2 linked regions of the Homo sapiens genome follow. The protein of the gene in region 1 purifies or fractionates together with the protein of each later gene. This does not show direct contact. Each region holds a gene or a part of one and is shown on either strand. Other genes may lie near its edges.

Evidence for each region. Proteins that work in one complex are often made in the same cells at the same time.
Region 2: the proteins of SLC6A11 (region 1) and EI24 purify together in Homo sapiens (affinity purification with mass spectrometry; one large-scale study listed by BioGRID and IntAct). This does not show direct contact.

What each region holds. Positions count from the first base shown.
Region 1 is NC_000003.12:10,814,678-10,818,427, reverse strand, and holds the start of SLC6A11 (sodium- and chloride-dependent GABA transporter 3), read right to left. Parts: upstream 2,201-3,750; 5' UTR 2,163-2,200; coding exon 1,907-2,162; intron 1-1,906. UniProt on the Homo sapiens protein: Mediates sodium- and chloride-dependent transport of gamma-aminobutyric acid (GABA). Can also mediate transport of beta-alanine and to a lower extent that of taurine and hypotaurine.
Region 2 is NC_000011.10:125,575,914-125,579,563, forward strand, and holds part of EI24 (etoposide-induced protein 2.4 homolog), read left to right. Parts: intron 1-341; coding exon 342-402; intron 403-1,590; coding exon 1,591-1,657; intron 1,658-1,822; exon of another isoform or gene 1,823-1,993; intron 1,994-2,219; coding exon 2,220-2,344; intron 2,345-3,035; coding exon 3,036-3,155; intron 3,156-3,650. UniProt on the Homo sapiens protein: Acts as a negative growth regulator via p53-mediated apoptosis pathway. Regulates formation of degradative autolysosomes during autophagy.

The DNA of each region.
Region 1 (3,750 bases):
TAAAAAGGTAAACAGTTGAGAAGCAGATATCCCAACTACATTAGAAAGCAAAAAGTGTGGAAAAGGAGATAAGAGGATCTGTTTACTGAATCGAAATCTAAGTGATTAAAATCAGCTGCAGCAGGTCCCCTAACATGCTGTTATTTACCTGTGAAACCTCTAGAATCTAACGTATGACACTTTCAGAAAGCCTTTTGACCTGTGTATTCACAAAGCTACTAACCCTTAGGACAATAAACTCTACCAAACCAGGAGATCTATGAATCTCAAGAAAACTCTTGGCTAGTCAGAAAAAAAAAATGACTCATTTAAAAAACTTTACTCACTACAACCTTTTTTTTTAAAAAAAAAAAAAAAAATCTGTGACAGAATTTGTAATTAACCCAATTTACCGTGTTTTCTGCTTTTATGAATGCTTTTTGTTTTGGCACAACAATTTCCTGTATGGAAAAAAAAGATGTTAAAACAATTTGTGCCTGGGGACTACCCTAGGTGTGCACAGGTTTCCAAGTGGACGCAGCTTACAAACGCTGTATCTGCAGAGAGGCAGGATTCACAGCCGAGAGCACAGGGCACGTTGGGGGTCTCCAAGTCCACTCCCTCTCTCTCCCTTGCCAAGCCGCCAACACCAGCGGCCACTTCATTACCAGTGCAGAGCAGGCTTGGAGCAGCCTGTGCCTTCAGGATGAATGTCCCCAAAGAAAGGGCCTGGGCCAAGCAGTACCCTTCTCCCTCTCCCGGCAGCTGCTCGCACAGGAAGTCCTGCTCTGCACAGACTCATAGCCCGGTCCCTGCCAGCCAACTTCTGAGCCACCTTCGCTGGGGTTTGGGAATTTGCTGGAGGGGCAGGGGCACAGCAAAGAGAAGAGAGAATATACAGATACAGGCTCTTCCTTCGAGAAATTGTGCCACCGAAGGAGGTTTTATAAGATCCCTTGCCATGGACCCGCCCAGCTGTCCTGCCGATATGACAGGAGGGGGTCCTGAAGGCTGGAGCCCCTTCCCTGAGCTGGGAGAGTTACGGATTCGCTGCTGCATCTTTTGCCAAACTGACTTTGAGAGGCTGTCACCAGAAAGGACTCTCTCATCACTGTCCTTTCCCTCTCCCCTTCTACATCTCTATGCAGAGCATCAACATTAAACCAGTATTGCTGTTTGTCGTGGGTGACTCTCAGACCCGTAAAATAAACTGTTCGTTGTCAATTCTTCCACCAGAGGGGCCCCAAATATTGGCCCTAGAAATGGGCTTAAGAGCAGACGAAAGACTAGGCAGGAAACCATAGAGCAATGCCTCGCCTAAAAGTTCTCCCTGTTGTGAGTCCAGTCCCAGTTTAAAATAGGGCCTTTGACATCAGAATCTCATCTTTATTTTTGGTCGAGTGAGACTTCTCTGACCCTCAGTGTCCTCACCTGCAAAATGGGTAGACCCCTGCCTACGAAAGTGACTGAGAGGATGAGATGAGATGATATGGTCAAAGGTGCTCGGCACTTCAGTAAGCGCGCAAAAACTGAGACCACTTTGATCATCAGGAGTCCCTTCCCCACAGGCCGTTTTCCCAGTTAGGAAAGCTGAGGCTCCAAGGGGCCAAGTGCCCGAAACACCAGGGCGCCTACCCAAAGCAAGGGCTCCCTGGCCTCGGTCTGCATCTCATGCTGGGGACAGAACGCGGGCAAGTCCCCGCGCTGGCAGGTGGAACCCTCAGGTGCGAATTGGCACGTGCGCGTGCGCACTGGCACAGGTGGGCCGCGCTCCGGGGCGAGCTCACACGCGAGGTGCCTGGAGTCGAGGTTCTCCGCTCGGGTTCCGCTCCACGCAGGCGCGGGAGGGGGTCTCGCGCTCGCCCCTGGCTCCCCGCCCCCACCGGGCGGTTGGCGCCCCCTCCCCTTCTCCTCACTATCACCTCACCTCCTCCGTTCTTGTAGCACAGGTAGGGGAAGCGCCACACGTTGCCCAGCCCAATGATCTCCCCGGCCACGCTCAGCACGAACTCCACCTTGTTGTTCCAGTGGCCGCGCTCGTGGACCGCCTTGTCGCGCTTGACGCGCGGGTGGCGCGCGGGCGCCGCGCCCCCGCTGCTGCAGCCGCCACCCGGCGCCTCGGACTCCCGCGCCTCCTCAGCAGCCTTCCCATTGCCCAGGGGCAGCGCCTTCTCCGCCGTCATGGCCGCGCTGGCTGCCTCGTGCGCCGGCCCGGCTCTGCGCCGCCGCCCCGGGCGAGCTGGCTTTTCAGGAGGCGCGAGCGGGCGGGAGGGGGAGGCAGGGGGTGGAGCTGAGGGACCGGGCCAGACCAGCGCGGAGACTGGGACTGGGACGCGCCGCGGAGGCCCGGCCCGCAGGGCGCCCACGCCACCTCAGCCCGGCTGGGCCCGGGAGCCCGCGAGCACCTTGAGCGCGCGGAGCCCCTGCAGCGCCCGTCCTTCCCGCGGCCCTGCCCACTGGCCTGCTGGGCCAAGAGTGGAAGCGCCCATTCCGGCCTAGGCCGGCTCCACTCACCAAACCCCAAAGTTCTACCACCGTCCATAACCTTCAAATGCTTGGGCCTCGGTTTCCTGTTTCTAATAAGAGGAATGGGCTCTAGACCAGACTTCTCCAACTTGAACTACACACCAGACACCTGCGGGTCTTGTTTAAACTACACATCACGGTCTAGTAGGTCGCAGTAGGCTGAAGAGCCTGCGTGTCTGACTACCTCCCCAGGGACGCTGATATGTCTGGTCCAGGGACCACACCTTGAGGAAAAGGCAGTAAATGAATTCGTGGCTTCTTCCCAGCCCTAGACACTCTGCAGGTCTTGTTCATACTGGTGTCCGCAGCTCTCAACATAGTCAGGACCGTGTGGCAGTTAAGTGCTTGCGTCTGGAAACAGGTGAATCTAAGTTGTGTGATTTTGGCCAGTCATCTGATCCCTCTGTGCCTCAGTTTCCTGATCTGCAAAAGGTAATATCAGTAGTATCTTGTAAGTTTTAATGTAGGGGATGGATTTTTAGGTAAAAGGTTATTAAGAAATGCTTATAAAGGTCTTGATACCTTGAAAGTGCCCAATGAACATTACCCATTGTTAGTATTATACAATATGTAGACCTACACACATTTGTCCATCTTCTTGTATAATATTTGTCTCCTCACTTAGTTGTAAGGATGATATACACTGTCCTGTTCATTATAATAGCAACATAACCTAGCACAAGACTTGGTGCATAGTATGTGCTCAATAAATGTTTGTGGCTAGAGAGGAAGGGAGGAAGGTAGGAAGAGGAAAAGGGGAAGAAGGAAAGACTATTAAGCTGCTGGGGGCCACAGAGATGAACACTTCCACCTCTTCCATTGCACAGGCCTGGAAAAGTCCAGCCACATTGAGCCCCCACCAACCCTACTCTCCATCTGTCCCTCGGAGCTCCCTCTGGAGCTCTCTTAGGGACAGGCTCCTTGCTTTGAAGCCTTCAAACTCCTGCCTTCCGCTTCTCCTTTCATTCTGGCTCACAACTGCTCAAGTCGCTCCCAACCTCCATCTCCCCAGAAAGCCCTTCCTTCCACCATCTTCCCGTTTCCCCTCCCCCCACTATCATATTTCTTGAAAGAGTAAGTTGACAGGCTGCCAGCCCTGTCTTTACCTCCCACACGTTCCTTGGCCCACAGCAATCTGGCACCCACCCCCACCACTCCTCTGAAAATGCTGTGAAGTCCCGGACGCCCTCTCAATTTGGCAAATTCTACGGTTCCTTTTCCATCCCTATCCTGCCTGGCCTCTAG
Region 2 (3,650 bases), on another chromosome or scaffold:
GGCTGGCTGGAAGTACAGGTGCGCACCACCACGCCTGGCTAATTTTTTATATTCTTTAGTGGAGACAGGGTTTTGCCATGTTGGCCAGGCTGGTCTCGAACTCCTGACCTCAGTTGATCGCCTACCACGGCCTCCCAAAGTGTTAGGATTACAGCCGTGAGCCACTGCGCTTGACCATTTTTTTAGTCTTTTCTCATTGACTGACATTAGAACATTGGGAGAACATGAGGCACTGAAAAATAATACAGTACCCACAAAAGATAAGATATAAAATGAACTACTGAATGACAATTAGGAAATAACTTATGCTTTATAAACTAAATACATGTGATCTTTTCCAGTGAGCCACGTATTGTTAGTAGAATTTTCCAGTGTTGTGCTTGGAATGGTGGAGTGTTCTGGGTAAGTTCTTTAAATTCCAGGTGCCTTATAAGCATCTTCAGATTGTTGCTGGGTTGATAGCTATGAACTGTTTTCTTGAAACACTGAGACAAATAGTTTTCATCTGCTGATGTACACTTAGAAATATAACTCAGGAGTCTGTGCATCTGCAGAGATTTTATTCCCACTCAGGAAAGCACACTTATATGTAAGCAAACGTCACAGCCCTGAATATACACTTGAATTTTGTTTCTAAAATGACTCATTCACAAGTATTAGAGGTAGCAGTTTCTCTTGACACTGTCTAGACATTTTAAAATGCTAACAGCAACTATGGGGACTCGGGAAGGGCAGATACGGCTAGACAAGAACAAGGTTCTCCCTGCTTCTGCTTATAGTGATCAACAAGAGTTAATTTGCATTGAAACCTATAGCAGAAAAGATTGCCTACCATTTACTGAGAATCCCAGTGCAGGCTTAACTGAAATTTGGGTACTTTGAAGAATGGATAAATATTTCCTTTGACTTAGAATTTAGAGTAATTCATCACTTCTTAATCTAAACAATTCACAGATGTTTTCAGATGTTAGTTTTAAATTTAATTAATATGTATTCCTGTGTACTTAGTACATGCCTGTATTTTGGCCTGAATACTACTTGAAATGTTCCTGTATGCCCCCAAAAGTTTCATTGTTTTATAGGCAATATCAAGTTTGTATCTCTCAATTGGAGTGTTGGGAAATAGAAATGGATCCAGTTTTGGTGCTTTTTCAGGCCTCCTGATTTATTTTATTTATTTATTTATGTATTTATTTGAGATGGAGGCTCGCTCTGTTGCTCAGGCTGGAGTGCAGTGGCATGATCTTGGCTCACTGCAACCTCTGCCTCCCGGGTTCAAGCGATTCTCCTGCCTCAGCCTTCCCAGTAGCTGGGATTACAGGCATGCACCACCACACCCGACCAATTGTTGTATTTTTAGTAGAGACGGGGTTTCACCATCTTGGCCAGGCTGGTCTCGAACTCCTGACCTCAAGTGATCTGCCTGCCTTGGCCTCTCAAAGTGAACCACCGCGCATGAGCCACCGCGCCCGGCCTAGGCCTCCTGATTTATAAAAGTCACTCCCATCTATAAAATCATTACACTAAAAATTGAAGCTCCTGTTTTAAAGACTGGATTTTGATGTTTGCCTTGTTGCTTCTTTTCTTTAGTTCAGTCTCCTCTTGTTTTATCGAGTATTTATTCCTGTGCTTCAGTCGGTAACAGCCCGAATTATCGGTAAGTGTATACCCTGCTCCTTGTCTGTTGGGGACAGAGTGGGAGATGATGTTTCAGTCTCCCTCAGTTTACTGAACATTTCCTGTGTACCAGGAGCTTTCACTGTTTATTTTCTTTTTTGTTGTTTTATTCTTTTTAAAAATTTATATTTCGTTATTCTCCTAGAGGCCCTTTAAGAATGGGTACTGTTGTTCTATCCATTTTATGAATGAGGAAATGCAAGTTACCAAGGTTAAACCATTAGTAAGAGGCAAAGCTGAGATTTAAACCCAGATGGTATCCTGCAGATAGCGTACTGGTAATCACTGTGGCATCTCGTTACCATCATGTAAGCAGGTTTGTGTCAAGCAGCACATATCTATGGTTTCTTTGAATTGGAATTGTGGCCAGAATGTGGTGCGTCTATTATGAGTTAGACTCTTTGAGATAGGTATAGTGATGTGCTGGCAAGAACTAGAAAGATCCAGGAGGAGACAGAGAATAGTCACGAGATGGGGGTTCCGCATTTGGTCTTCTGGATTTCCATTTCTCCATTTCTAGTAACTCGTTTCCTCTTTCTTAGGTGACCCATCACTACATGGAGATGTTTGGTCGTGGCTGGAATTCTTCCTCACGTCAATTTTCAGTGCTCTTTGGGTGCTCCCCTTGTTTGTGCTTAGCAAAGTGGTGAATGCCATTTGGTTTCAGGTAGGTCCAGGGCAGAATGGAGTCTGGGTCCCGCAGCATGATTGGCTGACAGGTGACAAGTTTCAGCCTGTGAAGTTAGTGGGCATGTAGGGGGACCTGTTTTTCAGCCTTAATGTTTCTTGGCCAGGTAGCCAGTAGCTGATCTTTGTGTTCTTACAGAATGGAATTATTGTCTCAGCATCTCATTGGCAGGTGTCTGGTGCCTTTTCTTTTTCGTTTTGGCTTTTTTTTTTTTTTTTTTTTTTTTGAGACAGTCTCACTCTGTCGCCCAGGCTGGAGTGCACTGCAACCTTTGCCTCCCGGGTTCAAGCAATTCTCCTGCTTCAGCCTTCCAAGTAGCTGGGACTACAGGCACGTGCCACCATGCCTGGCTAATTTTTTTTGTATTTTTATTAGTGACAGGGTTTCACCATGTTGGCCAGGCTGGTCTCAAACTCCTGACCTGCTGATCTGCCTGCCTCGGCCTCCCAAAGTGCTGGGATTATAGGCGTGAGCCACGGCATAAGGCAGCAATCCTCCTACCTTAGCCTCCTGAGTAGCTGGGACTATAGGCACATGCCATCGTGCCCAGCTTATTTTTAAATAAGCCTTTTCTTAACTGGCAGCTCTAGTGGCGGACTAGTGGCCTTAGCTTTGGGGATGTATATCAAGGCCATTTAATTCATGTTTTGGTACACTTTCTCTGTTACAGGATATAGCTGACCTGGCATTTGAGGTATCAGGGAGGAAGCCTCACCCATTCCCTAGTGTCAGCAAAATAATTGCTGACATGCTCTTCAACCTTTTGCTGCAGGCTCTTTTCCTCATTCAGGTGAGACTGACCTTCTGGGCATATGGGCAGCTTTATTAAAAAGAAAAACTGTTTCACTAGAGAGAACTTCACAAAGACAGAGTATTATATTTATACAGAGTATTATATATATGCTGGTGGGAGGTAATGATTTTTAAATCTTTTTTTCCCCACGGAAATGAGAATTTTAAAATTACATTATAAAATTATAAGAAACATGAATTTACCTGCTTTTTTCTGCTACTCTGGTTATTCTCCAGTCCTGCCAGGTGGAAACTTTTTTTCTTTTTATAGTTATGCCTAATTTTTTTTTTTTTTTAAAGAGACAGACGGGTCGGCTGGGCGCAGTAGTTCATGCCTGTGATCCCAGCACTTTGGGAGGCCGAGGTGGGCGGATCACCTAAGGTCAGGCATTTGAGACCAGCCTGGCCAACATGGTGAAACCCCATCTCTACTAAAAATACAAAAATTAGCTGCGCGTGGTGGCAACATGCTTGTAATCCCAGCTACTCGGGA